Linked DNA regions of Homo sapiens: region 1 is linked to region 2. The links come from fine-mapping of genetic effects on gene expression. A gene starts in region 2. The other region holds a variant in brackets. All regions are shown on one strand. Distances are from middle to middle. Region 1 overlaps RASGRF2 (Ras protein specific guanine nucleotide releasing factor 2). Region 2 holds the start of RASGRF2 (Ras protein specific guanine nucleotide releasing factor 2).

Region 1 (2,754 bases), 250 kb before region 2:
ACTGGGTACCATCAAAGGTGAACCTTTTATGTCAGGAAGTTAATTGGACATTATTACATTACTGTGAGCTCTTAGAGATTTAAGCTTGTCGTCAATATCCCATCAATTCTGTTTAAAAGTGGGTGGCAGGCCAGGTGCGGTGGCTCACGCCTGTAATCCCAACACTTTGGGAGGCTGAGGCAGGCAGATTGCCTGAGGTCAGGAGTTCGAGACCAGTCTGGCCGACATGGTGAAACCCCTTTACTAAAAATACAAAAATATTAGCCAGGCATGATGGCATGCACCTGTAATCCCAGCTACTCGGGAGGCTGAGGCAGGGGAATTGCTTGAACCAGGGAGGTGGAGGTTGCAGTGAGCTGAGATCACGCCATTGCACTCCAGCCTGGGCGACAGAGCGAGACTCTGTCTCAAAAAAAAAAAAAAAAAAAAAAAAAAAAAAAAAAAGTGGGTGACAGAGTTGCTTTGTTTTAGAGGAGTCTTTAGACCCCAATATCCATCTTCTTGTGACACGCCCACGGTTTTACTGTTACGGTTACTCACGTCATTGAAGTGTTGGCTGGTTTTCATAATGTAAGGAGTTCTTTCGTTTTTATCCAGCTTCATCCACCCCTGCCCAAGAAACTCCCTGGAAGTTCAAAACAAAACACAAAACCAATTAAGTTTTTAAAAATATGGTGGCTATGATCCTGGACAGTTGTCACGAATATTAGAAAAATTCCATTTGACATGGCCTAGAATGGTTCCTGACACCTGCTGCTGCCAGCCTCACAAGTGAATTTTACCTCGGCTGTTGCAGTTTACCTCTCAATGCCAAAAAGGAAGATTCTTCAGCTTCCAGCTTTCTCTTATAAATGTTTGGAACTGTGTCCCTATTAGGATCCTATAAAGCCTTCTCTGAAGTTGGAAAACAAGAACCAACACAAGGGAAATAAAGAGGTTAAGTACTACCTTAGAAATCAAGACTATTTTCCCAGGATTAGCTTTTAAAAACATTAAGCCTTAGCAGAGGGTCCAAAAATTTCATCACTACCAAAAATGTTAGTCAGAAGCAGAATTTTCTCCCTCCACTCTGCGCTGCCTGCCATTCTCCTGGAGGATGCAGATTTCAAAGGCAGGGATTGCGTTTTGTTCTCCCCAGCGCTCAGGAGGGCGCAGGTGGTCAGGGCTGAAAAGCGCTCCTTTTAGGCTTGTACCGCATGTTGCCCTGACCAGGCAGTTCAGCGGGGCAGAAGCTCCACCTGGTCAGATGGGCTGTCTTCAGGGCAGCATTCCTGATCATTCACTTCATTCCTGAGCAGGTCACCAGACACAGCAAGAAACAAG[G/A]GACAAGTGAGATGCAGCATACAGGAATTATTTTGTATAGTCATTAAAAACACTCGAAATTACTCTGATACTCAGGTTGACTAAGTCCCTGGGCAGGGTTCTTTGTCCCTTGCTGTTGTTGGTCCTGCTCCCATCCTGCAGAGTGCTGGACACAGAGGCGTGCCAGTTCCATGGATGGAAACAACTGGTAGATACTCACACAGGAACTGAGGGGACAGACATACACACAACCTGCCTTAGGAATAATGTCAACTTCTAAGACAGCTAGAGCAGCCGAGCCCTGCTGCTGTGGGGGGTGGCACTCACTCGTAGGGAATGCTTCTGAAAATGACATGGTCCAGGAGGGTGATCTGTTCTGCCAGCTCCATGGCCGACAAGGACTCAAAGCATTCGGCCTTCATGCAGTCAGTCTGCAAGAGATGAGGGAGGGAAATGAAACACCCAGGAGAGGGCGCCTGCCATCTCATTGCAGGTCAGTGAGGCAGACAGCTGCATGTGTGGAAGCATGAAGTTCACCACTAAATTCTAACTATGAAAAAAATGGCAGAAAGCTAAAAGTATCAAAGCCAACATGAATATCTTAGACCAACTGCTAGACCCCACACCAAATGTGGTTCATCTCACAGAGCTTCACAGATAGGACAGAGGGCCTAATACTACAACACTCCTTGATCGGTTACAAGCATATTGCTCGCCTTGGAGAGGTAGTTTGCACATAGTTGTGCTAGATAAAAATGTGGTCAGACTTACCATTTGAATTATATCCTCTAATTTTAGGTGGATGTCATCTTGGTCATCTTGTGAAAGGGCCCTGAAAAAGATATCAAATTATCCTCCATGAAAGAAAAAATAGACAACCTAGGAACAAAACTACAAATGCAGTTTGGTTTTCCCTGGATGGGAGGTCTGAGGATTTGGGTCTACAAGGCCATGCAGCACAACCAACTGCTGAGCTGGAGATGAGCAATCCCCAAACAGAAAACATGCTCAAGGCATGAGAGAATCATCAGGACAGCTGATTTAGAACAAAAAGGCAACCTGTTACATACAAGGTTGTAAATGAAACAACCACCGTCACAGTGAGTCTGAGGGTGAGCTGGGTGAGCTCTGAGTTACCATCCATAATGTAAAATGGAGCATCCTCTAATGCTATCAGCCAGTTGGACTCCTAGGCCTGAGTGCCCTCCTCCCCACACCTCTATCCCCTACCGTGGGCTTTCCCTGCCCTCACAGAGGCAGGAGACGCAGGGCCACCCCTTTCTCAAGCTTACGTAGACCAGAAGCACAGGGGGTTCCTATGTGGCAAGACTCTGAACAATGCCAGGCAGGAGCCAGCAGATAGCTTCTTCCCCCTTGCATTCCAGATGGACTTTCCTCAGACACTTTTGGCCCTGAATCTCATACATGTTATTCAGCTCTCAATAAATATCT
Region 2 (3,032 bases):
AGGGTTAGGTAGGCATCTTACGGATCACTCCATTGCTAGCACCTCCCACAGCCTCTGTGGTGTGCGGTAGATGCTGTCTGATCTGAACTCACATGGAAAATTCAGCTGCGAATATTTTTACGCAACAGCAAAAACAATCAGCCTTTTTCATATCAAGGTGGGGATTGAGAAGCTAAATGAGAACATTAGGGGCATAAAATTAGTCTGCTTTAACTTTAATAACCAAACGGTGATTGGAAACATACAAACTTTGTGTTTGCAGGAATGAGGGGCTGGGATCACTAAGACTTAAAGGGTTTTTCTCCCCCACCCCGCGACCATGAGCACACAGCAAAACTAATAAAATTATGACCCAGAATTAAAAGGTCGCATTCATTTTCAAAGCATTCATTTAAAAGTACAGAAGCGTTCTTTAAAAATGCCCACATTTTTAAACATAGCAAGAATGTGGCTACCAAATATTAATCCTGAGGAATATGAATACACATTTACCTTCATAATTACACCCAGCAGGTCAAATGTTAGCAAGGCCAACTGACCGAAATCACAAAGACTGATTGAAAATGACCAACAGAAAGTGTCTGTCCGGCTTGGGAGCCCCGCTTGTTCCCAGCCCAACCAGTGGTCAAACATCTGCAGGCAAAGAAATCTACACGCGCCAGCCGGGTATGGCAGAAATCAAACTTTTCCAAATAAGTTAGTTCCGTCTTGCCAATCTACACCCAACAGGTGTCAATACATGTCACCAGACAAAAATCTGGCGAGCCAGGTCTAGAGAAGCAATAGATGGTTGGCAGAGAAGCTGAAACGACTCGACCTCTACCAGGGTAATGAAAGCAAGTCGGGCCACTATTCTGACTGATCACTTGGCAGTGGGGTGGAGGGGTATGGAGATGGGAGAATCCCTGGATGAAGATCGGAAGGAGCGTGGAGATGTCCCGCCACTGGTGACGCGGGGGGATTTCGGAGCATAGTCCCCGCACTCTTTCACGACCCCCGACCCCTGATCCCCGGATTAGGACGGCAAGGGAGTGCGGCGATCAAGGCTGGGAGACCGCGGAGAGAAGGCGCGCGGTACCTGCTTGTCCAGCGCGTCTCGGACGCCTCCCTGCCCGGCGCCGGCCCTGGGTGGCGCGGGCGTTCGTTCGCAGCTGCAGCCCTCCAGGAGGTACATGCCCGCCGGGCGGCAGCTCTGCTCGCCCTCGAAGTAGAAGAGCACATTCTGGTAGAGGGCGAACCACTTCTCGTGCCAGCGGCTCGCCTCGGCCGTCTTCTTACTCAGGAAGCCGCGCTTGGTGCCCTCCTTGCGCGCCAGAAAGGCCAGGTACAGGGCGTGCCCCTCGTTGTAGCGCACGCTCTTCTGCATGGTGCGGGTGCGGAGGGCTCACGGGTGGCCGCCGGTCTCACCCCTGCCTCGCGGCCATGGCCCAGCTGGCTCCCTCGAGGGCGCGACCGCTCAGGTCCCGGCCGGCGAAGGGCGCCCCCTTTCCCCACGCCGCGCGCAGGGCACCCCGCCCGCTTTCGGGAGGCCGCGGCGCGCGGTGGCAGGGGCGCGGGCTGGGGCCGAGGCACGCTCTCCGCCCTAACCACCACCCTCCCGGCCGAGCCCCCGGAGCCCCCCAAGCCCCCAACGCCCGCGTGGAGCGCGGCCCCGCGAGGGCGCCCGAGCCGGCCGCCGCTTCGCCCAAAGTTGCGGGAGCCGAGCCCCCGCGGCGGGCTGGGGCGGCAGCCGGGGAAGGACTGTCCTCGGGCAACGCGCTCCGGGAGACAGAAGGTAAAACGTCACGTGGGAGCTCAGCTGTAATCGGCTTGGAGACCGATTTAAAGGGCAAAGTCGGCGCGGCGCCGGCGGTGGCGCAGCCCGCTTGCCCCGGCTCGCGTCCCTCCCTCGCCCGCCCCGGCCCGGGCCGCTGCCTCTGCTCGGGCGCCCGCCGGGATGGGGCGGATCAGGGAGGTGGAGGCGCCCGGCCGCACCACACACCCGCTCACACGCGCTCGCACACTCGCGCACAACGCGCGCACACACACACGCACACCCACACACACGCAGACCAGTACATTCACCCAGATCCACAATGCACACACTCAGACGCACAAAAATACACTCACAAATGCACACAAACACAATGCGCGCACATATGCACAAAAACACACGCGCACACACTCATGACACACAAATACACATTCTCACAACGCTCACACTCAACACACAGTCACAACGCACAAATGCATATAGACAAATACACCCACAATGTGCGTTCCCGCGCACAAAAATAAAACCCACATTCAGATACACACTTAAGGAGCTACACACATGCACGCAGTGATATGCTCACTTACACACACATTCACACACAACCCACACATTCACTCAAACCCACATTCAAACATACATTCATACACACATTACACTCATACAGTCACACAAACAGCACACATATACTCACACGTTCACAATCATACAGACTCATAAGCAGATAATCAAACACACACACAGATGAACACACATGTACATTCACAAATTCATCCAAAAATACACACAAAGCACTCACACACGTATTCGCACGAATCCACACACTTTCACAAACCCACTCACACATACACACACACTCACATGCCACATCCATAAGTACGTTCCCATGGCAGTAGGTAGAGTCACAGAGTGGCTTTGCATAGCCCGCATCCTTGGCTTTTCTGCTTGTACCTGCATTGTAGTATTTAAAACTGCCGGTAAAGGTTAAGGAGAGTGGCCCAAGTGTTCCCGGAAAGGCATCAGATGCCGAAGTTCTTTCGGAATGCCTGTTATTTCACAGTGGTAAGATGCTAAATTTTAAGTGCCGAGTTTTCAACCTGGAAAAAAATACCCAAATAAGGGACACTTTGCTGCCCAGGGCAGAATCCAACCCCAAAGGCCAGCTGTCACAGGCTCATCGTTTGTAGGACTGGATTCATTTGATTAACAAATCTGACAGGTACAACCAGAAAACCAAGAGCCACCCCCCCGCCCCAACCCCATGCTGTAAAAATGTAAG

The links. PIP is the estimated chance that this variant, and not a neighbour inherited with it, causes the effect.
Region 1: its variant is fine-mapped to the expression of RASGRF2 in whole blood (TOPMed, PIP above 0.99).

What each region holds. Positions count from the first base shown.
Region 1 is chr5:81,206,225-81,208,978 of GRCh38, reverse strand. It overlaps RASGRF2 (Ras protein specific guanine nucleotide releasing factor 2), which reads right to left. Exons shown (of 27, transcript NM_006909.3): 20 at 2,074-2,134; 21 at 1,630-1,733; 22 at 541-625. LOC124901017 (a long non-coding RNA gene) reads left to right here. Exons shown (of 2, transcript XR_007058842.1): 2 at 1-2,754. Among named protein-coding and RNA genes, the nearest start is that of CKMT2, 26 kb to the left of the region's middle. The variant G/A (reference allele first, on the strand shown) is at 1,324.
Region 2 is chr5:80,959,073-80,962,104 of GRCh38, reverse strand. It overlaps RASGRF2 (Ras protein specific guanine nucleotide releasing factor 2), which reads right to left and starts at 1,742. Exons shown (of 27, transcript NM_006909.3): 1 at 1,079-1,742. The coding sequence starts at 1,366. RASGRF2-AS1 (RASGRF2 antisense RNA 1) reads left to right here and starts at 1,198. Exons shown (of 4, transcript NR_105015.1): 1 at 1,198-1,324. RefSeq lists an enhancer at 918-1,639.